Linked DNA regions of Homo sapiens: region 2 is linked to region 1. The links come from fine-mapping of genetic effects on gene expression. Tissue or cell type: nasal epithelium. Region 1 holds a variant in brackets; the other region holds the start of a gene. All regions are shown on one strand. Distances are between the middles of the regions.

Evidence for each region.
Region 2: PAPOLA-DT starts here. The variant in region 1 is fine-mapped to the expression of PAPOLA-DT in nasal epithelium (TOPMed, PIP 0.99).

The regions. Positions count from the first base shown.
Region 1 is chr14:96,474,140-96,486,068 of GRCh38, forward strand. AK7 (adenylate kinase 7) reads left to right here. Exons shown (of 18, transcript NM_152327.5): 15 at 4,326-4,523; 16 at 8,860-9,080. Among named protein-coding and RNA genes, the nearest start is that of PAPOLA-DT, 22 kb to the right of the region's middle. RefSeq lists a silencer at 1-99. The variant T/C (reference allele first, on the strand shown) is at 5,094.
Region 2 is chr14:96,494,713-96,506,641 of GRCh38, forward strand. It overlaps PAPOLA-DT (PAPOLA divergent transcript), which reads right to left and starts at 7,614. Exons shown (of 1, transcript NR_122121.1): 1 at 6,936-7,614. PAPOLA (poly(A) polymerase alpha) reads left to right here and starts at 7,670. Exons shown (of 22, transcript NM_032632.5): 1 at 7,670-7,888. The coding sequence starts at 7,881. RefSeq lists enhancers at 6,375-6,971, 6,972-7,566, 7,484-7,743, 7,567-8,162, 9,318-9,819 and 1 more and silencers at 7,082-7,425, 7,864-7,983.

The DNA of each region.
Region 1 (11,929 bases):
CTTAGGACAAGGCTGTAACTGAAAAGGGCCTGCCTGCTCACTGGTATCAAGTCCCCGAGGAAGGCAGCTTGTGGCTGTTTTCTTCTCTTGGTCCAGCACAGTTTGCAGAGAAGCTTCTGGAAGGACTGAGACCACCAGATAGCAGTCATCCTTGGGGATGGATATTTATTGTTTGCCTGTGGGCTAAGTTGATTGGCCAGACACAGTGCCTGTAATGCCAGCACTTTGGAAGGTCAAGGTGGGAGGATCTCTTGAGCTCAGGAGTTAGAGACCAGCCTGGGCAACATAGTGAGACCTCATATCTACTAAAAAAAAAAAAAAAAAAAAATCAAAAAAATTAGCTGGGGGTGGTGGCATGCACCTGTAGTCCCAGCTACTTGGAAGGCTGAGGTAGGAGAATCACTTGAGTGTGGGAAGTCAAGGCTGCAGGTGCCCTGATTACACCACTGCACTCCAGCCTGGGCAACAGAGCAAGAACCGGTCTCAAAAAAATTAATTAAAAAAATAAAATAAAAAGTAAAGTTTGTTCATCTACTTTATTGTTGATTATTAAATTCTAGGTAGGTGTGTCCAGTGCATTTTGTTTATCACTTCTAGGCAATATTCACTCATTGCAAACTCTGTGCTAAATCATAACACCCATAACATCCAGGCAGCTGGATACATTTCAGTTCAACTGGCAATTGGTCGTGCACAATTTGTCATGTGCCAGGCACTCATTGAACCTTTCCACAATCCTGCAAGGCAGGAATTACACCCATGTTTACCCAATCCAGAAGCTAAAGCCTAGAGATTTATGCAAGTCCACTCACTAGTAAATGGTAGGGGGATTAAATTAAAACTCAGGTCTTCTCACTCCACTGCCTCCAAAACAATTAATGAAACCTGCCTGTGAGATAAGGAAATGGAAGCACAGAGGTCAAGTGACCAAGGACTCTTAAACGTAGGCCACTGGACTTTCCATTCTTTGTTGGACACAGTGCAAACACGTCTAAGACGTAATCTATTTGGAACGTTAATCTGTTGTTAGCAAACTTTTCAGAAATTGTCTTTATTTTCTATTTCTCTGAAAGAAAGTAGGGCATTGTTTCATTCGTACTTGTAGGATTTTAATTGAGGGAGGGAACTGAATGGTGACATAGAGAGGTCAATGCCATTGAAATAATTTACACTTAGGATTCCCTAGAGATGGGGGCACATGGGGAATGCCAGGTTTGGTCAGGCGGCAGAAGCAAGAACAAGGGGAAAGGTCTAGATCAATGCCGTTGTTGGGGTTTCTTTGGGAAAGCCAAGACAGGCCACAGTGAACCGTTCGGGACTGGCTAGTTTGAGTTTACGGGTGGTCTCTAGTTGCCTGGGGCCTGGTCCTGGGATGATTTAGGGCAAGGGAAATACTGGCTTGCTGTGTGAGATTAGATAAATGGATTGAGTGGCTTGCATAGGAGGGGCATTCCCAAGCAAGTTGTTACTATCTTTAGGTATTGGCTAGGCCTGGGAAGGACAGCAGTCTCTCCCCAGATCTGTAAGGCCCCCCTGAAGATGTCAAAACAGACCAGGTGTGGTGGCTCACGCCTGCAATTCCAGCACTTGGGGAGGCTAAGGCAGGAGGATTGCTTGAGTCCAGGAGTTGGAGACCAGCATGGGCAATATAGCAAGACCCCCATCTCCACACACACAAAAACATTCTTAATTAGCTGGGTGTGGTGGCATGTGCCTGTGGTCCCAGCTACTCAGGAGGCTGAAGTGGGAGGATCTCTTGAGCCCAGGAGGTCAAGGCGGTGGTGAGCCTTGATCATGCCACGGCACTTCAGCCTGGGTGACAGTGAGACCCTGTCTCTTAAAAAAAAAAAGAAAAAAAAAAAGAAATCAAAGCATAAGATACAGAAAATAAAAGAAACACATTCCAATCTATGGTAATACAGTTCTAGATGGTATTCTCTCCCATTGAGCAACCATTGCATTTTACCACTGCTGTTAGCCTATGTCCAGTTTGATTCTTTGAAGACCTCTTGGTTGAAGGAGATAAGTTTAAAGTTGTACCTACCTGATTAATATTTGGAAATTTGTTAAAACATAGCTTTTTCAGCCCAGCGCAGTGGCTCACACCTGTAATCCCAGCAATTTGGGAGGCCGAGGTGGGCAGATCACCTGAGGTCAGGAGTTCAAGACCAGTCTGGCCAACATGGTGAAACCCCATCTCTACTAAAAATATAAAATTAGCCAGGCACGGTGGTGCACGCCTATAATCCCAGCTACTTGGGAGGCTGAGGCAGGAGAATCACCTGAACCCGGGAGGCAGAGGTTGCAGTGAGCCAAGATCGCGCCACCGCACTCCAGCCTGGGGGACAAGAGCGAGACTTTGTCTCAAAAAAAAAAAAAAAAAAACCATAGATTTTTCATGTGATTCCAGATAGCCAAATACAGTGACCTCCTTGTTATCTACGGTCTTACCAAGCAGAAATCTATTACTCGCTATCCACAGTTAGCCAGTGCAAGGACAATAGATGTTCTGAATAACTGTCTTGAGATACTGCAGAATCTTGAAGTTCTCTGAGTCATAAAGAGAATGAACATTTTTTTAAAAATCATCTAGTGAGAAGTATATTTTATCATATTAAAAATCTTTGAAAATTGGAAAGCCAAGGATGTTACTCATTATTTGATTAACTGGAATCTTCCACCTCCTGATCAGCCTGGAAGAAAGATAGAATATATTTTTGAAATTCATAGATTATTAACATAGTTCATACATTTTCTAACAAATGAGTATCATGTTAGGGAAAAATCTAAAAAGAAAATAAGTTTTCATATAGATGTCCGACATCATAGAGCTTAAATGGATTCAATTTTCAGCGAATCTGTTGACATCCTTTTGATTTCAGTACCGTACCAGCATTTGAGGCTTCATATGTCTACCTTCCTTTTCAAAAGGCAGCCACTCATGAAAATCATGACAATCAAATGGTAAAAGATGAGCAAAAAATAGGAACAACTTACTTGCGAAAACACCTCTTGTATGCAGAATGGAGGTAGTATCAAACTATTATGAATTTATAGGATCTTATTCCACACGCTGTCTCAGCCTTTGTTTTCACAGTTAACATCTGCAGCAGATGATGTTCACACATGTCCACATGCCTCGGGGACACACCTCCTGTGGGCTTTCCCCATTACACTTACCTTTTTCACCCACTCAAGGAAGCTTATTAGAATGCAAGTAAACGAGAATGGCATTATGATGTTATAAGCCAATACAATTTTAGAACAAAAATCAAATCATTCCCAAGTTCTGTTGAGCTCTAATAGATAGCAAGCTATTTGTGATGCACCCAGACACTGATCTGGGCACCAGTATACCCTGCTCCTGTAGTTGAGAACATCTAAGAATCACAACTCACCTTGGAAAGTTTATTTCACTGATCCACACTTAAATCTCTCATTCACTCAACAATTATCTATTGAATTTGTACTAGAAGCTGGAGGAACAGCTGCTTTCACAGTTTAAAAGAAAATCACAGATGGGTAAAATGGTCATCATTATTAACATGATCTGTGTGTTGAATTTGATAAGTGCTGACCATAACATGTTGTACGTAAGTGTTTCATAGCCAATGGCATTGATGAAAGAGCTGGATCCATGAAAATTCCAAGGGGAGTTCCCATTTTATTAATTTGGCAAACTGGCCATCAAAGCATTTTGCTTGTAGCCATAGCTCTCTTTGGAAGCCTGTGATAATTGTGCTGGATAGGAGGCAGCGTGAGGCCAGGAGCCGTGGCTTATCCCTGCCAGCACTTTGGGAGGCCAAAGCGGGAGGATTGCTTAAGGCAAGAATTTGAGATCAGCCCGCACATAGTAAGACCTTGTATCTCTCTAAAATAAATATACATACATATAAGTATGTATTTTTTAAAAAAGAGAAAAGAGACAATGTGAAAATTAACTAGGAAGCTGATATCACAGGGTTATCTGAGATTTGCTACTTATGATTTCTGCTGCTTTTATTAGTTAGAAAGGGAGGAAGGAAGGAAGGAAGGACAGAGGGAGGGCGGGGGAAGGGAGGGAGGAAGGAAGGAAGAGAGGGAGGGGGGAAGAAAGGGAAAATAATAGATTGCACAAAATACTAATTGGGCCTCATAGGGTGGTCTCTGGAAATGGGGTGATTTTCATCTATTTATCCTCCATGAGAGGCAGCAAAGCCAATTGGACAGGCTATTTGTGGCAACAGGAGGTCTTGGCTGGTAACCAGGGGGCCATGCGTTCTCCAGCACCCTGCTAGTTAGCTGCGCTGTATTGTGCCAACTCTGGAGTCTGTCCTTCTCCCCAGAATTCGTTTGTGCACTGGATGCTTCGGATGAGTTTCTGAAGGAGCGTGTGATAAACCTTCCTGAGAGCATCGTGGCGGGGACCCACTACAGCCAAGACCGATTCCTCCGGGCTCTGAGCAACTACCGGGACATCAATATCGACGATGAGACTGTCTTCAACTATTTTGATGAACTTGAAATTCACCCGATACATATTGGTATGAAATGAATTCAAGGATAATGTGAATGTCCAGGACCCCCAGCAAAGCTTGGTGCAGGTCTAGCTGTAATTGTGGGGCTGGGGGGAGGGTGGGGAGTGTAATCATGGGTTGGGGCACAGGAAGCCATGAAATACACAGGGCACTCCTCCTGGGGAGTCATTCTATGTGGGGATTTGGTGGTGGGAGGGTGTTATTATCGTATGAGAATTTATGGATATATTGTGAAGTCAAATGACAAATCCTTTTTTTTTTTTTTGTGGGGGGATGGAGTCTCGCTCAGTTGCCCAAGCTGGAGTGCAGTGGTGCAATCTTGGCTCACTGCAACCTCTGCTTCCCGGGTTCAAGCAATTCTCCTGCCTCAGCCTCCCAAGTAGCTGGAACTACAGGCACATGCCACCAGGCCTGATTAATTTTTTTTTCTTTTTTTTTGAGATGGAGTCTTGCTCTATTGCCCAGGCTGGAGTGCAGTGGCACCATCTCGGCTCACTGCAAACTCCGCCTCCCGGGTTCACGCCATTCTCCTGCCTCAGCCTCCCGAGTAGCTGGGACTACAGGTGCACACCACAG[T/C]GCCCGGCTAATTTTTTTGTATTTTTAGTAGAGACGGGGTTTCACTGTGTTAGCCAGGATGGTCTCGATCTCCTGACCTCGTGATCTGCCCGCCTCGGCCTCCCAAAGTACTGGGATTATAGGTGTGAGCCACCGTGCCTGGCCGACAAACTCTTTTTTTTTTTTTTTTAAAGAAATGTGTGTATGGTGCTGGCTGCTTGGGCCATTCCCCCAGGTTCCTTGGGAGCAGTGTTCTGTCCCTGTTAAATTATTGGGCACTGGTGCTCTTCCAGACCCTTTCCCAGCCTTCTGACTGGCCAGCCCATCCCCGTAGCTACCCAGAAGAGCAAATAGCTCTTCACTGCGTTCCTTCTTGTTTCCTGTAAACACAGCTCTGAGCTTAGCACACAGCAAGCACTCATGATCCCGCATCACGTCAGCCTCATCGTCACCATTATCATTCCTGGCTCCAGTTCTCAGCTTTCACAGCTGCTGCTACTTCCCTTGGCTTGTTGAACCCCTGACCTACCTTTCTGGTTTTCTGGACCTTCGCACGTATTCCTCCTATGGGCTTGGTGAGAAAGAACCAGCTTCTGCCTGGTGGAAGCTTCCTGGCCAGGCCCACACCTTGGGCCTCCAGGGGCTGCTCTCTACCCCCAACTGCCCAATGGGACAGCATTTGAGCCCTGGAGTATCGGGAGGCTTAGTGCTAAGGGATAATGTCAGCAGGAGGCAGGAGAGCTAATTCCAATTGTGGCTGGGCCTCAGTTTTCTCATCTGTGAAATAGGAAAATAATCAGGCTTGCAGGATTGTTACAAACGGTAGAGATGAGAGATACGAAGTGCCTGGCACATTGAAGGAGTTCAACAAGTGGTCATTTTGTTATTCCTACCAACACTAAGGCATAACATGACATACTATTATGAAATAAAAAAATGACTGGGTGCAGTGCCTCACGCCTGTAATCCCTACACATTGGAAGACCAAGGTGGGTGGATCATCTGAGGTCAGGAGTTCAAGACCAGCATGGCCAACATGGTGAAACCCCATCTCTACTAAAAATACACAAATTAGCTGGGCGTGGTGGTGTGCACCTGTAATCCCAGCTACCCAGGAGGCTGAGGCAGGAGAATCATTTGAACCCAGGAGGCAGAGATTGCAGTGAAGTGAGATCATGCCACTGCACTCCAGCCTGGGTGACAGTGAGACTCTGTCTCAAAAAAAAAAAAAGAAATACAAAAACAATTTATAAATCTGCAAATTCTTCTTGTCTGCACCCTCAGAGCAGTGACTGGGTTTTGTCCTCATCTGGACATGTTTCTGCATGTTGGACATGCTTTATATGTAAAAGCTAAGGGTTCTGTACCTCCTAATATGGAAATTAGTTTACATTATTTAGAGAACTAGGAAAGAATGGAGAATACATTTCAGAAAAATAGTGATTGTCATCTTTTCAGTTAGGTCCCAAAAACTGTTTATAGGAAGATCAGGAGAGCCCAGGAGAAATGTTGAGAAAAAAAATAAGTAACAGGGAGGAATGAATGAGTGGCCATTGTGTTCCATCTCATCCTGTGCCCATCTCATTTGGCCTCATCTACAACTGACAACTGGGAGATAATATAAAAGCAGAAGGGAGAAATGTATCCTAAGGATGGGAGATGGGGAGGGCGTCTCACAGCCAGGGATGCAGCCCGGCCTCTGCAATGTCTGGAATGGGGCCCTGGAAAGATGCTGGGAATCACATCCTCTCATCAGCTCTGGACTCTGCTTCTCTCTCAGTGTCTCTTTGTCCTCTCTTTCTTTGGGCCAGTGTACTCTCCCCCTCTGTGGCCTGTGTGGTAGGCTGAGGCCACCCCACACCCCAGAGTTACAATGCTACCCTGGGAGCCAAGGCCAGAGCTGACTTCACTGTGTCCAATCCCACATTCCCTGAAGGGCAACTCTGCTGGTCACAGTTCGGGCTGAGGTGCCCCACCCCAGTCTAATCAGCAGTGGCCCCACTCTGGGGTCAGAGTGGAATATTGCTAGGGGGAATCATTCCCAAGTACCTTCTCAAAGGTGTCCAGTTAGTGATATCAAGGTTGTAACTACTCAGAGTAATCAGGGAGAAATGCATTTATTTATTTATTTATTTATTTTATTTATTCTTTTTGAGACAGAATCTCCCTCTGTCACCCAGGCTGAAGTGCAGTGGCGCAATCTTGGCTCACTGCAACCTCTGCCTCCTGGGTTCAAGCGTTTCTCCTGCCTCAGCCTCCCAAGTAGCTGGGATTACAGGTGTATGCCACATGCCCAGCTAATTTTTGTGTTTTTGGTAGAGACAGGGTTTTACCACGTTGGCCAGGCTGGTCTCAAACTCCTGGCCTCAAGCAATCTGCCCATCTCGGCCTCCCAAAGTTCTGGGATTACAGGCGTGAGCCACCACACCCAGTGAGAAATGCATTTAAATGTCACAGGTCAGGCAATGAGGAGCTACCGATATGACTTTTACCTTTTTTTTTTTTTTTTTTGAGACAAAGTCTTGCTCTGTCACCCAAGCTGGAGTACAGTAGCTCAATCTCAACTCAATGCAACCTCTGCTTCCCGGGTTCAAGTGATCCTCCTGCCTAAGCCTCCCAAGTAGCTGGAACTACAGGTGTGCACCACCACACCAGGCTAATTTTTGTATTTTTAGTGGAGATGGGGTTTCTCCATGTTGGCCAGGCTGGTCTTGAACTCCTGACCTCAACCTACTCGGCCTCCCAAAGTGCTGAGATTACAGGTGTGAGCCACCATGGCCAGCTGTTTTTTGCTTTTTTAAAGGTTTGCTTCTGTTCACCAACCAGTGCACTGGCTCTGCTCCTCCCCTCTTCCCATATTAGAACTTGGTGGTGCTTCTGGTCTAGGTCAAGGTCATACAAACATGGGAGGGGTGGCGGCTCATGCCTGTAATCCCAGCACTATGAGAGGCCAAGGCAGGAGGACTGCTTGAGCCAAAGAGTTCAAGATCAGCCTGGGCAACATGGGGAGACCCTGTCTCTATAAAAACAAAACAAAACAATAAAAAACAAACATGGGAGGGGTGGGCACAGCAGTGACTATGAATGGGCGTGGGGTAAGCAGCTACCCAGAGGAAGGTCTGAAGGGGCTTAGTACCAAAATGTGTCTGCTGCACATCGTTCTCTGCAGACACCTTCCAAGCAGCCCTAAGAGAGTGGCATAGAATTTACCACCTCAGTGACCGTGGAGATCTCAGTATTTATCAATACACCATTTCTCTTTTTCTTCTCTTTGGTCTTGATACTAACATTTTTCAGATATTCTGGAGTCTGGATATTTTTCCTATTCAAGTAGACTCACTGAAATGGTTATTTTTTTATGAATTGAAAATGTATCCCAGTATCATTGATTTTCAGAAAGGTCACCCTGTTTGGCCTCCCACAAGTGCAGGACTTCCTTCTGTAGAAACCTCTGAAAGAAGTGTCCCAGTCTTTGCTTGAATACTTCCAGGCATGGAGAGCTCATTACTTTTCAGGCAATCCATTCCCCCATTCAACCACTCAAATCAAGTCATTGTTAGAACTCATAGACCCAAGTCCAAATTTTCCTACCCACAGCCCTCAGACTCTGGTCTGATATTTGCCCGTGAGAGAAGAAATTCTGAACTATGCTGGCAATTAGAAAAGAAAACCCTATGTGGTAATTTACATAATTGACTATCGCAAGTTTATAGTAATAAAGAATTTTCCCAATTGCAGGCAGGCCTAGAATATAAGTATGTGTTGATCTCTCTCCTGGTATTTAAAGATGTAGGAAAACTTGAAGATGCTCAGAATAGACTTGCTATCAAACAGCTCATCAAAGAGATTGGGGAGCCTCGAAATTATGGTTTAACAGACGAAGAAAAGGCAGAAGAGGAGCGGAAGGCTGCGGAGGAGCGGCTGGCCAGGGAGGCTGCTGAGGAAGCAGAACGCGAGCACCAGGAGGCCGTGGAGATGGCAGAGAAGATAGCTCGCTGGGAGGAGTGGGTGAGTGGTGAGTGTGTTTGTGAGTCTGTGTATCTGTGGAACAGGGGTGCGGTGCCTGGCAAAGCCATTTAGGCCAGTTCCACTTCCCATCCTGCTCTAGGGAAATGTCATGGAAATACCCTAAACAAATTTGTGTTTGCTTTTTGTCATTTGTACCATTTAAAAAAGGATATCCATGGTCTTTTGCTTAGTTTTTTTTTTTTTCTTTTTCTTTTTGTTTGAGACAGGGTCTGGCTCTGTCGCCCAGGCTGGAGTGCAGTGGTGCAATCTTGGCTTACTGCAACCTCTGCCTCCCGGGTTCAAGTGATCCTCCTGTCTCAGCCTCCCCAGTGGCTGGGACTACAGGTGTGCACCACCAAGCCCAGCTCATTTTTCTGTTTTTAGTAGAAATGGGGTTTCACCATGTTGGCCAGCCAGGCTGATCTCAAACTCCTAATCTCAAGTGATCCACCCGCTTCTGCCTCCCAAAGTGCTGGGATTATAGGCATGAGCCACCATGCCCAGCTTGCTTAGTATTAGTAACAAAAACTAGCCATTAGCAGGTGTATTAGTAATACAAATTCCTGTAAATGTGTAACATTTTACTATGCATTGACCTCATGATTTGATTTGATTTTCCTCCATTTACCCATCTAACCTACCCAGGTGGTCAGCTTCTTTCCACCCCTCCTCATTCCCCAAATCACTGAATCTAGTAAGTGATTCTGCTTCCAAAAATAGCACTCTTAGGCTGGGCATGGTGGTTCATACCTGTAATCCCAGCACTTTGGGAGGGTGAGGCTGGAGAATCATTTGAGCTTAGGTATTCAAGACCAGCCTGGGCAACATAGCAAGACCTTGACTCTACTAAATAAAAATTAGCTGGGCATAGTGGCATGCCTGTAGCCCCAACTACTAGGGAGGCTAAGGTGGGAGGATTGCTTAAGCCTGGAGGATTGTTTGATCCTGGGAGACTGAGGCTGCCATGAGCTATGATGATGCCACAGCACTCCAGCCTGGATGACAGAGTGAGACCCTGTCTCAAAAAACAAACACCACCATCACCAAAAATGGCACCCAAATCTGTCCCAAGCTCTCTACTTCTGATCAGGGGCAGTGTTTCTCATCCGAATTACGCAGTGTCTTCTCACTGTCCTCCCCAACTCCACCCTGCTCCATCTCCAGTCTGTTCCTACGCAGCTGCCAGGTGATCCTTCCAAACTGCAGACCCACTATGGCCATTCTCTGCTTACAACTCCTCACAGGCTCTCAATTATCACAATTTGATAAAAATCCAAACTTGTCATTGTGGTCAAGGTCCTTTGTGACCTGGCTGCTTCTGATATTTCCCAATTTCAAACAGTGCACCAATGGTGGTCTTGGTCATCTGCATGACTCATTGCCTCACAGACACCTGGCATCTTTACCAGAAGTTGTCTTTCTAGTGAGGCATTTCCTGGTCTCTGTAAAATTCAATGTCTACCCCTCCCCACAACCTGTCACATCCCCTTTTATACTTTTTAATTTTCCTCTTTGTACTTACTCTACCTATTATATACATTTTATGTATTTATCTTGTTTCTTGCCTTTTCTCTGCACAGAACTTAAGTTACATGAGGACAGGGATGTCTGTGTTGTTCACTACCATATATCCAGTGCCTAGAATAGTGCCTGGCACATAACAGGCACTCAACAAATGGAAAGAAGGAAGGAAAGAAGGGAGAAAGGAAGGAAGAAAGGAGGGATGGAGGGAGGGAGGCAGGCCCAATGCACACATCTTTGGGTGCCTGATTAATCTTCTTAACATAAATTCCTAAAGTTTGCTGGGTCAAACTAGACATGGTTTGAGTTTTGATACATATTTAAAAACTGCCCTCCAGCAATGGTAAACCAGTTTATGTATCATCTAACAGGTGGCTATTTCCCTACACCTTCTCTAAACCTGCTTTCTCAATTTTACTCGCACATGTCAGGCTGATAAAAACTGTTCTCATTGTTTTAATATTCATTTCTCTGATCACTAATCTTACAGCTTTTTCTGTTTGTTAAGCATTTATGTTTCTTCTCATGTTGCGTATTTTCTTTGCCCCTGTTTGGGCTGTGTGACTTTTTCTTATTATTTTGCAAAAAGAACTCCTGATAAACTAGTTCAATAGAAACAGGAACGGCTCCAGTTGGCCTCCCAAGTCGTGCTGCTAGAGATCAAATCCCACTCCACTCTCTCTGTAGGTATGTGGCCTTGTGCAAGCTCCTGTCTGTGTCTCAGTTTCTCCATCTGTAAAGTGGGGATAATGATAGCACCTACTTCATACAGTCATTGTGGTGACTAAAGAGGTAATATACGTAAACTATGCACGTGCCTGGCAAGTAGTGTGCATCACATAGTATCCTCATCACATCTTAACTTTTTAATAATGTATTGCAGTTTTTCTTAATTCATGATTTATTTTTTAACATTATTTATGGTATTTTCTCTGACCACACAAAAGTTTCATGTTTATATGTACTCAAATTCACCCACCTGTTTCCCATTTTGATCTCTGGGTTGGCAATCTTGCTAAGAAAGACCTCCTTTCAAACAAATATCAGCTAGGACTTTTTTTTTTTTTTTTTTTGAGACGGAGTCTTGCTCTGTCGCCCAGGCTGGAGTGCAGTGTTACGATCTCGGCTCACTGCAAGCTCCGCCTCCCCGGTTCACGCCATTCTCCTGCCTCAGCCTCCTGAGTAGCTGGGACTACAGGTGCCCGCCACCGCGCCCGGTTAATTTTTTTGTATTTTTAGTAGAGACGGGGTTTCACCGTGGTCTCGATCTCCTGACCTCGTGATCCACCCGCCTCGGCCTCCCAAAGTGCTGGGATTACAGGCGTGAG
Region 2 (11,929 bases), 21 kb after region 1:
CTCCCTCCCCTCTACCTGCTGCTCCCCCATCTTCCCACCTCAGTTATTGGTAACTCCATCCTTCCAGTTGCTCAGGCCCAAAACCTTGGAGTCATTCTTGATTCTTTTCCTTTTCTCTCTCTGCCTTTTTTTTTTCCCTAGATGGAGCCTCTCTCTGTCACCCAGGGACTGGAGTGCAGTGGTGCAATTTTGGCTCACTGCAACCTCTGTCTCCTGGGTTCAAGCGATTCTCCTGTCTCAGCCTCCTGAGTAGCTGGGATTACAGGTGCGTGCCACCACACCTGGCTAATTTTTGTATTTTTAATAGAGACAGGGTTTTGCCATGTTGGCCAGGCTGGTCTCAAACTTCTGACCTCAGGTGATCCACCTGCCTCGGCCTTCCAAAGTGCTGGGATTACAAGCGTGAGCCACGGTGCCTGGCTCTTTTCCTTTTCTCTTACCCCTCATCCAATACATCAATGTATTATATTGGCTCAACTTTCAAAACGTATCTGGAGTCTCTGTGCTTCTCATCCTTCCAACACTACCATCCATTAATCCATTAACCAATTATTGCATTAATCTATGAATGGGTTAATGCATGCAAGAGGACAGGGCCCACATCACCCAAACATCTCTTAAGGGTCCCATCTCTCTACATTGCCACATTGGGGATTAAATTTAAATATGAATTTCGGAGGGGACAAATATTCAAATCATAGCAAGTTGGTATCATTTACAATAAAATAGGTAGGGGTAACCTAAGGAAGATGTGTAAGACCTCTACTGAAAATTACAAAACATTACTGATAGTAATTAAACATGAAATAAGTGGAGAAATGAAGGGACAGACCATATTAATACTTTATAAAGCCCAATATTGTTAATACTTCAATTCTTCCCCAAAATGATCTATAGAATCAATGTAACTCCTATCAGAATCCCAGTATCTTTTTCCCTCTCTTTCGTTCACTCCCTCCCTCCCTCCCTACTCCTTCCTTCCTTCCTTCCTTCCTTCCCTCTTTCCTTCCATCTTTGCTTGCTTCCTTCTCACTTTATTTTTTGGGGGGATGAAAATCAGTAATCTGGGCCAGGTGCGGTGGCTCATGCCTGTAATCCCAGCACTTTGGGAGGCTGAGGCGGGCGGATCACCTGAGGTCAGGAACTCAAGACCCGCCTGACCAACATGGAAAAACCCTGTCTCTGCTAAAAATACAAAATTAACCGGGTGTGGTGACGCATGCCTGTAATCCCAGCTACTCGGGAGGCTGAGGCAGGAGAATCGCTTGAACCCGGGAGGTGGAAGTTGTGGTGAGCCGAGATTGCGCCATTGCACTCCAGCCTGGGCAACAAGAGCGAAACTCCGTCTCAAAAAAAAAAAAAAAAAAAAAAAAAAAAGAAGAAGAAAAGAAAAGAAAACCAGTAATCTGGTTCTAAAATGTATATGGCAATGCAAAGGACCTAGAATAATCAAAACAATTTTGAAGAACAAACCTAGAGGACTTACACTCTCCAGATATCAAGACTTATTACAAAGCTACAGTGATTAGAACAGACACATAGATCAATGGAGCAGAATCAGGAACCTAGAAATGGACCCACACATTTATAGTCACCTGACTTAGAGCAAAGGTGCCATGGCAATTCGATAAGAAAGTATGATCTTTTAAATAAATGGTGCATGGCCATCAACTAGAGATCCACATATTAAAAACAAAGCCAAGCCTTGACCTCTACCTCATACTGCACATGAAACTATTTTGAAGTGGAGCATAGAATTAAATGTGAAAGTCAAAATAATAAAATGGCTGGATGTGGTGGCTCATTCCTGTAATTCCAGCACTTTGGGAGGACGAGGCAGGAGAATCGCCTGAGGCCAGGGATTCCAGACCAGCCCGGGTGATGTAGCTGGGACCTCCTCTGCATTAAAAATAATAAAAAAAAAATTAGCTGGGCGTGGTGGCATGCACCTGTAGTTCCAGCTACTTGGGAGGCTGGGGCCGGAGGATCAGTTGAGCCTGGGAGAGGGAGGCTACAATGAGCTGTAATCACAGCACTGCACTCCAGCCTGGGTGACAGAATGTAAGACTTTGTCTCAAAAAATAAATAGATATATTAAAAAAAGGGGAAATGAATTTAATGAAAGGACTGCTCAAGAGTATAGCACTCATTGGATAAAAATGCTTGTATTATTATTTTTATTTTAGTAATTAATAAGTCTGATCTTTGATTTTTTGAAAAGTATTGGCCCAGTGGATCATCAGAGTTCACTACTGGGATAAAAATCTCTGTGTCACACAGTATCTCCTACGACTACTCCTAAATGACAGCAAAATACAATCCATGTAGTTCCCAATATATGAAGAGCTTCTGTTCTCAAAAACATTTTCAAGCATTTTTTGTTTGTTTGTTTGAATACACTGTGGGCTTCTGGGAACCAGTTTTGAAATTCTTTCCACTATTTATGACACTGTTCTGTGGAAAATGTAGTCCCCCGTTATCTGGGGTTTCTCTTTCCTGTTTTGATTACCTGTGGTCAACCGTGGTCTGAAAATAGTAAATGAAAAATGTTAGAAATAAACAACTCATAAGTTTAAAATACCATACCATTCTGAGTAGTGTCATAAAATCTTGCACCTTCTTGCTCAGGTGGACATGAATCAGCCCTTCGTCTGGTGTTTCCACACTGTATACACTGCCCACCAGTTAGTCACTCAGCAGCCCTCTCCGTGATCGGATCAACTGTCAAATATTACAGTGCCTGTTTTCAAGTCACTCTTATTTTACTTAATAATGGCTCCAAAGTGCAAGAGTAGTCATGCTGGCATATTGTTGTAATTGTTCTATTTTATTATTGTTGCTGTTTACCTCTCACTGTGCCTAATTTATAAATTAAACTTTATCATAGGTACATATGCGTAGGAAAAAAACATAGTAAATATAGGGTTTGGCACTACCCTCAGTTTCAGGCATGTGCTGGGACTCTCTGAAGGTATCCCCTGGGGGTACAGAGAGACTACTATACTTAAAATTCCAGTAGAACACATCTTCCCCCTTCTCCGCAGCCACAAGAAAACAGGCACTAGGTGATGGGGCAATAGTCACGGAGACCAGCAGCAGCTGGAGGGAGGTGTGGGCAGGACTCAGGACAAGCAAGGCAAGGGTAACAGTAGACTGTTACCAATATACTATTAATTGGTCTTCTCTTACTCTTCACTTTCCTTGGCTAGAGTTTTACTCTTAACTGGGTCCTAAATATGATCTGTGAGCATCTAGATTATTACTCATTCATGAAATTTGAGTTGGAGTAGTCGCTGGGTGTATATAAGGTCCTTCCAGAGCCAAAACATGATTCCAAGCCATGATTCTTGTTTTCAGAGTTTATAATGTTTCCAGCCCAAATTTCTCTTCTTAGCTCCGGAAGCATATTTTCAACTGCCTCATAGACATTTCTGAATGTCCCACAGGCAGTTCAAAATCAACACATAGCTACTACTCTCCCGATCTCATCCACTCACCCAGTTATCCTCCTCTATTTCCTATTTCATTTATCAGTAGCTCCAATCACTGTCACCCGCCCCCACTCAGAACCTCCGAAATCATTTTGGTCTTCTTCCTCTCCATCACCTCTCCCATCCAGAATTAACTATGCCTTCTAAATCTTTCTCAGATTGCTCCCTTCTTCTCTTCCTTATTTCTTCTTCTTTTTTTTTTTTTTTTTTTTTGAGACGGAGTCTGGCTCTGTCGCCCAGGCTGGAGTGCAGTGGCGCGATCTCAGCTCACTGCAAGCTCCGCCTCCCGGGTTCACGCCATTCTCCTACCTCAGCCTCATGAGTAGCTGGGATTATAGGCGCCCGCCACCACGCCCGACTAATTTTTTTGTATTTTTAGTAGAGACGAGGTTTCACCGGATTAGCCAGGATGGTCTCAGTCTCCTGACCTCGTGATCCACCCGCCTCGGCCTCCCAAAGTGCTGGGATTACAGGCTTGAGCCACCGCGCCCGGCTTTCTCTTCCTTATTTCAAACTTCATTTCTCATCTGAAGGATTGCAAGAGCCGCCTCACCCATCTTCCAGCTTCAAAACCTCTCCTAGTTCAAATTCATTCCTTACACTTTCAGTCATCTTTCCAAAAATATAAATGTAACCTAACTCCTGTTTTAAAACTTTCAATGGCTCCTCCATTCACAAAAACAAAAATTCAAAATCGCTCAGAATTAACTTCAGGTCTCAGCTCAAAGGTCAGTTCCTCTGAAAAGCCTTCTCTATCTGAAGTTGGCCTCCACCACAACTCTAATGCCTGGTTTATTAATGCCGCTTATCACCATCTATAATTCCTTTGTCTGTTTATGGAGTCATTATATGATCTCCCATCTCCCCCTACTTCCTTTATTTTTGAGACATGGTCTCATTCTGTCACCCAGGCTGGAGCGCAGTGGCATGATCTTGGCTCACTACAGCCTTGACTTCCTGGGCTCAGGTGATTCTCCCACCGCAGCCTTCAGAATAGAGGACACAGGTGTGCACCACTATGCCCCTTATCTTCTGCCTCTCACTTAACTTTGCAGCTTTATTTTCACCACTCCTCACTAAATATTTTGTGGTTTAGTCACTTCAAAAGTTTCCCTTTCTCCAAATAAATTATTTGCACGTTTTAATTTTTATTTATTTATTTATTTATTTCTGAGGCAGAGTTTTGGTCTTGTTGCCCGGGCTGGAGTGCAATGGCACAATCTTGGTCCACTGCAACATGTGCCTCCTGGGTTCAAGCGATTCTCCTGCCTCAGCTTTTGAGTAGCTGGGATTACAGGCGCCCACCACTATGCCCGACTAATTTTTGTATTTTTAGTAGAGATGGGGTTTCAACATGTTTGCCAGGCTGATCTCCAACTCCTGACCTCAAGTGATCTTCCAACCTCAGCCTCCCAAAGTGTTGGGATTACAGGCGTGAGCCACTGCGCCCGGCCTCATTTTATTTTTAAAAATTGTTCTCTTTACCTGAGATGCCCTTCTACTCCTTCTGTCCACTTACCAAACCCTAACATATCAGGACGTGTCTGAAGTGACCTCTTACATGAAGTCTACCTTGACTCCATCCTCAATCCTCAATATTGTTCCTTTTAAATGCCTTAGGCAAGTAGCGTGATATCTAGCACATTCTAGGTACTAAATATTCATCAGCTGTGCTATCTAGCTGCCTCATTCTATGGAAGGCTGAAACAAAAATAGTTTGAAGCAATTATAGACCAAAAGCATGGATGTTTAGCGTCCCTCTCTTCACTGCCTTCTGAGATGCCTGGCAGAGGACAACATAAGCTGAAAAAGTCCCCATTCTTTTATTCATAAAGTACATCGTTAGTGCATTTTTTTTTTTTTTTTTTGAACAATGTCTTGCTCTGTTGCCAAGCTAGAGTGCAATGGCATGATCAGGGCTCACTGCAGTCTCAACTTCCTTGCCTCAGGTGATCCTCCCAACCTCAGCCTCCCAAGTAGCTGGGACTACAGGTGTGTGCCACCAAGGCCAGCTAATTTTTTTGATTTTTTTTTTTAGTAGAGACAACGACTTGCCACGTTGCCCAGGGTGGCCTAGAACTCCCGAGCTCAAGGAATCCTCTGCCTCCCAAAGTGCTGGGATTACAGGTGTGAGTGAGCCACTGTGCCAGGCCCCAGGGCATATCTTTACAAGCTGCTTTGAAGTCCATAGCCTTAATACATTATTGAATTATCTGGATCTCAGATTTTCAGTCTTTTAGGGACAACTATGCTACTGGGTCTCCAGCCAAAGCCACCTTGATGACAAGAGGAAAAGAGACTAAATGGAAGAAATGACAATCAAATATAAGTCTGTTTGCAGATCAGCACTATTTAATGGAAATGAAGGCCACATATATAACTTAAAATTTTCTAGTGGTCACATTTAAAAAAACAGGTAAAATTAATTTTAATAGTATATTTTCTTTTTTTTTTTTTTGAGACAGGATCTCGTTCTGTCAACGCAGGCTGGAGTGCAGTAGTGAGATGACGACTCACGGCAGCCTCCACCTCCCACTCCAGGGATCCTCCTACCTCAGTCTCCGGAGTAACTGGGACCACAGGCAGGAACTACCATGCCCAGCTAATTTTTTTTTCTTTTTTCTTTTTTTTTTTTTTTTTTTAACTTTTTGTATAGACGGGGGTTTCCCTATATTGCCCAGGCTGGTCTCTAACTCCTGCCCAAGCGATCCTCCCACCTCAGCCTCCTAAAGTGCTGGATCACAGGTGTGAGACACCGTGCCCGGCTTACATTTTCTTTACTGCAATATATCCAAAATATTTCAACGTGCAATCAATATAAAAAGTGATCAGTGAGGTATTTCACATTCGTCGAACTGACACCCGTGCGTATTTTGCACTTCCAGTGCCTCCTAAACGAACTAGCCTCATTTCAAGTGCTCAGTGGCCCTAAGTGGCCAAGGGGCTACACTAATGGACAGGGCAGGTCTAGGTCCTGTGTTTTTCCCATTCGGAGTCACCAGTCCTACTAGACATTCTGTGAAAAAAGGGAAAGCCTTTGTGAAACTTCCTGAGGACTCACAAATGCACATTATTACATTTAGAGTTTAGAACTTTGGTTAAGGCAGCGTCCTGTATTTGATTCTTTCCCTCTTCCTCTCCGCTAACCCCCTATGTGACACCGTAGAACTTATAATTCGTTCTAATTCGCAGATGGAGGGCATATGAGAGAGGAGGCTCTGCCTCAAACACTTTCTCAAACTTTTGCCGAGGGGTGGCGAGAAGGTAGACTTCCAGGTCCCACCCGATATAGATTAAGGGCTGGAAACACAGTCAAGGGGAAATTATGACCAAGACAACCTTTGCTAAAATGCCAGCGGTGACTGCCATTGATGTTCCTATAAAAGGTCAGCTCTGTCAGGAAGTTCCAGTGCATCATTTGTTCAAAAGTAAAATCAGCCCGTGTTCCAGAATTCGCGGACTGTCGTCAGTCCTAACCTACACATTTATTCGTTCAACAAATATTTCAGCGCCTGGGTCAGGCATCAGGAATACACTGGTGGTTAAAACAGACGGAAAGCTCCATCTGGTGGGACGCAGTCTGGGAGGGAAAGGGAGTCCTGGGGACATGTTTTCGTCGGCTCTAGGCTAAGCACCTCTCGCCGTAGCACACGGGGTCGGCACCGCTGCCCGGCGAAGTACTTGTTACTTTGCAGTCCAGTACGAAGCGGCGGAGTAACCGGTTCCAACCCAAGGCAGCGACTCATGCGAGTCGTTCTAAGCGCCGCGCTGGGGGGTACATACGGTGCACGCGTGGGTGCCTCACCCCCTGGCAGCGCCTCCAGGGACGCTGCTCCGGGAAAGAGCAGCCGCCGCGACCTCAGGCGGCGGGAAAGGTGGGACCTCACAATGCGCCGGAAGCGGTGCCTCGTGGCTTGGGATCTCTCCGGGTTCTTCCTTGCGCCGTCCACGCCGCACTGCCCACGAGGGCGTCCCCGCCCGAGGGACAACTCACCGCCCGGGGCCTCCCTGAGCGTTCCCTTCCACCATCTGACACCCACTGCTAAGTGTGAGAGGACCCAGGGGGTAATTGCCGGGCCGCAGGCGGCCTTAGGAACTCCGCTTCCCGTGAGGCTTCGCGGCGGACGGCGCTGGTGCGCAGGCGCACGCACGGCGTGCGTGGTGGCGTCAGCAGTTCTAGAACGTTGCTGTGGTAGCGCTCGGGCGCCATGTTAGGACGAAGGGGAAGGAGGAGAAGCGCTTAAAGCGGCGGGAGCGGTGCGGGAGAGGGGTTGGACCCAGGGCTGAGGCAGGCCCCCCCCTCCCTCCCGCCTCAGTGGATCATGCCCAGGGCGGCAGCGGCGGCGGTTGCGGGGGGGAAGTGACTGGGCGGTGCCGGCGCCGGAGACGATGCCGTTGTAAGTAATTTGTATTCTGTTTTCTTTCGCTCGCCGGCTGGGCCTTGGGGGGCGTCCGGGAAGGGGAAGAGGTAGGCGGAGAGGGTGGCACGCGAGCCCGACCCTCCCCGCTGGTAGGAGGCAGGCAGGACTGGGGACCTTCCTGTTTCCTCGCTCGCTCGCCGCCGCACTTCCCCCCGTGTGCTGGGTTCCCGCGTCCCCCGACCCTTCCTGGCTGGGTCAGCTGCCGTCGGGCCGGGGGCCTTCCCCTTCCGGAATTGCTGGCGGAACCTCTAACTCGCCCGGCCACTCCAGCTTCTCCGCCCCGTCCACAAAGAAAATCAAAACAACCCGAAAACAAAACATTGCCTGGTGGTGGGGAACCACGACCCTGCTGCACGCGGGATCAGCACTTGGGGTTCGGGCTCGCTCTCGGCGCCCCTCGGGCCCATTCGATGTTGCTTTTCTGTTCCTGGTCTGTCTCAGTTTGCTCACTCTCTTCCTCCCATTTCCAGATGCCTGTCTTGTGCGCCGGAGTTAGCCCCTTTCCACTGACCTTGTCTGAATGTAGGAGCACGAGTTAAAAGCCCAGCTTTGAGCGTTGAGTCCGCCTGCCTCCACCTCCGCCTCCCTAGCATTCACAGGCGGTCGGAGAAGGGGGCACTTCACAGGGTGCCCTCCTCCAAAACGACTTATGTATTGCTTTCCCTGTTTTGTTTTGATGGGGTAACCAGGTTTCATTCTGTTTCCTTCTTTCTCTATCTCTGGTGATACTTTTTTTTTCCTGGTTGTAAGGCTTGAAGCTAGTCTCTTTATGCTTTCTAATGCCACTGCGCCTTTTTCTTTTCTTGGTGGGTTTTTAAAAAGTTTTTTTCTCCCCTCCCCCTTTCTGATAATGAGATATAATTTGGCAGCTCATTGCCAGTAGATTACGGATTTTTTTTTTCCTGCAAATATACAGCATTGTAGAGGCCTAAATAGTGAGACTGCATTTCTTCCATTTTTGAATATTGAAGCGTAAGAGTGCCTCTTTGAGACCAGGGACCGAGTTTTCTTCATCTTAGTAGCCTCAAAACGCAACATGTAATTGACACTCAAAGTTTTGGTTAAATTCAGGATAAAGATTTTTGTGGTTTCTAGACATCGAATGTAGTAACTCAGGTCTATTTTTTTTTTGTAAGTAAGGATAATTTCTTTAGCACATAATCACCGATTGTAGTTTTACAATTATATATGTGTGTGAATGTGTTTCTTTACAGGTGAGACTCTAACTTTGGCACAGACCTTAATGACTTCTATCGCAATTTATGTATTTTAAAAGGATTTTCCATGGCTCCCACCCACCCCCTTAGGTTATTAAGAAGTCTATCACATTACTTCTGTGATGAAAACGTTTGTTAGACTTAACTAACTATACAGGTCTAAAATCTTGGAATCTGCATGGTTTCTGTTTATTGATTTTTCCCTTTCATAGAATAAGAGACCCTAGGAGAACTGAGTCTAAGCAAGATTGTTGTGGTGTTTCTCAGTTCAATAGGAGATAAATGTTTGCAGTGATGTCGTGATGACTGCGTTATTAAGTTAACATTTTGCTGTCTTTGAAAAGGGACTTCTTTTTCTGATAATCATACCAGCATTAAAAATGATAGATGTAAACCTTAAAAGGCTTCAATGAAGAAATAACATTAAGTAATTTGTGTCTTATTTCTAGGAATTAAAAGTACTTTTATACCTACTTTCCCCCAACATTCTTTGAAGAGGGAAGGTATACATTTCTGTGAAAGACCTTAGGTATTTCAAATTCTTCGCGAGTTAGTTCAAGTGTGTAAAATGGAAGACGGGGCCAGGCGCGGTGGTTCACGCCTGTAATCCCAGCACTTTGGGAGGCCCAGGCAGGTAAATCGCTTGAGGCCAGGAGTTTGAGATCAGCCTGGGCAACATGGCGAAACTTCATCTCAACAAAAAACACAAGTTAGCTGGGCGTGGTGGCTCATGCCTGTAATCCCAGCTACTTGGGAGGTTGAGGTGGGAGGACTGCTTGAGCCCAGGAGGCTGAGGCTGCAGTGAGCCTTGATCATGCCACTGCGTTCCAGCCTGGGTGACAGAGCGAGACTCAAAAAGTAAGTATACGATAATTACTGTAGTAAACAATAGAGAGACCAAAGAATGCCTAGTTAAAGAAAAATAGGGCTTCTTCCTCATTAAGTTGCTTTGTTTTTCATGTACTGCTGTCACACTGTCATAAATGTTGTTTTTTTGATGTGTTGGATTGTGATTTCCCGGCTATATTGTGTTTGGCTTTCATTTTTGGTATACCTGTCCTAATGTTAAATTTGGATGGGTGAGTGGCATTGGGGCATGGACCCTAGGTGAGTTGTCGGAATGAATTTAAATCAAAATTATCGAAATTTAGGATATTACAGAACATTTTGATCAAGTGTCCATATTTTGTCTAAATTTCATATGTAGCTACAAACATACTTTTGGAAAGATTATAGTCTGATTTAAGAGTCATGGTGGTGAAGCTTCTGAAAGTTTTGATAGTCTTTGGATCCATTAAACAGTTTCTCACCTAGTCATTATTGACATTTATGCCAGATTCATTCCTTGCAGGTGCCTGTCCTGTGTATTGTAGTTTAACAGCAGCCTTAGCTTCCACCTACTGGATTCCGGGAGCTCCACCCCTCCATTTCCCCAGTAATGACAATCAAAAATGTCTCCAGATATTACCAGATGTGCCCTGGGGTGCAAAATCTGGTTGAGAACCACGGCATTAACGAAAAGTGTGATGCCCTTATGGAAACTAGATGTATTTCTGCCCTACTCTGTGTTGGTCAGATATTTTTGGCATCAGCTCAGTTCTGAGTATCACACATATGATAAAAAGGTGTGAAGGAGAGTAACCAGTATCAGTAGCATTTATGCCACATGCATAGAATGTTGTCAAAGTTACCAAAAAGAGTTACTGCAAGGTTTAGGCGAGACAATAGCAAAAATGTTTTCGGGGGCTGCACAAAAAAGAGGGAATTGTAGTAGTTTTACATCGCCATAACAAGCAGAACTGGTACCTGCTGGTGGATGGTCTGTGCTTCCCAGAGCGGGATCTGTGGATGCTTGGGGAGGGGGACCACTGAGATCTTTCAGAGGGTACATAATGTTCAAACTATTTTCATGTTATTGAGATGTTTTGTCTTTCAACATTTGTACTTAACGGTGCAAAAGCAGTGGTGGAAAATGCTGTATCCATCATAGGAACAATCAAGGCAGAGAACCGGTATTGTATATAGTCATTTCCTTCCTTCCTTCCTTGCTTGATTCCTTCCTTCCTTGCTTCCTTCCGTTCTTGACGGAGTCTTGCTCTGTCGCCGGGCTGGAATGCAGTGGAGCGATCTCGGCTCACTGCAACCTCCACCTCCCGGGTTCAAGCGATTCTCCTGCCTCAGCCTTCCAAGTATCTGGGACTACAGGTGTACGCCACCACGCTCAGCTAATTTTTGTATTTTTAGTAGAGACGAGGTTTCACCATGTTGGCCAGGATGGTCTCGATTTCCTGACCTCGTGATCCCCCCCCACCTCGGCCTCCCAAAGTGCTGGGATTACAGGCATGAGCCACGGCGCCCGGCTGTCATTTTATTTCTTGAAGACTGCACACTCATAGTTTAAAAAGCTTTTGATGAAACAGTAAAAGGAGGTTAATTTTATTAAATCTTGACACTTTGTTTATTTAATGTACTGTGACCACGGAAAGTACTTGTGAAGCTGTATACTGGGGAGTAGAATGGTGGTTTTGAGGAGCACTTGTATGTTGATTTGTGAGCTAAACTGGTGTTCTCATGGAGCTCCATTTTTATCTGAAAGAACAAGTGATGAACTGTGGATATTCATATTTGAGTATTTAGGAGACTTAAATGAGAATAAAGCAAGTCTGTCACTCCAAGGTAAACAACTGACTATTCCTGGCCAGTGAAAAATTGGAGCTTTCAAGCAAAATATAGAATTTTAGAAAGCTTGCTTTTCCATCATGAGCTTGACGGTTTTTCCCAATACTTAAAAGATGTTTCT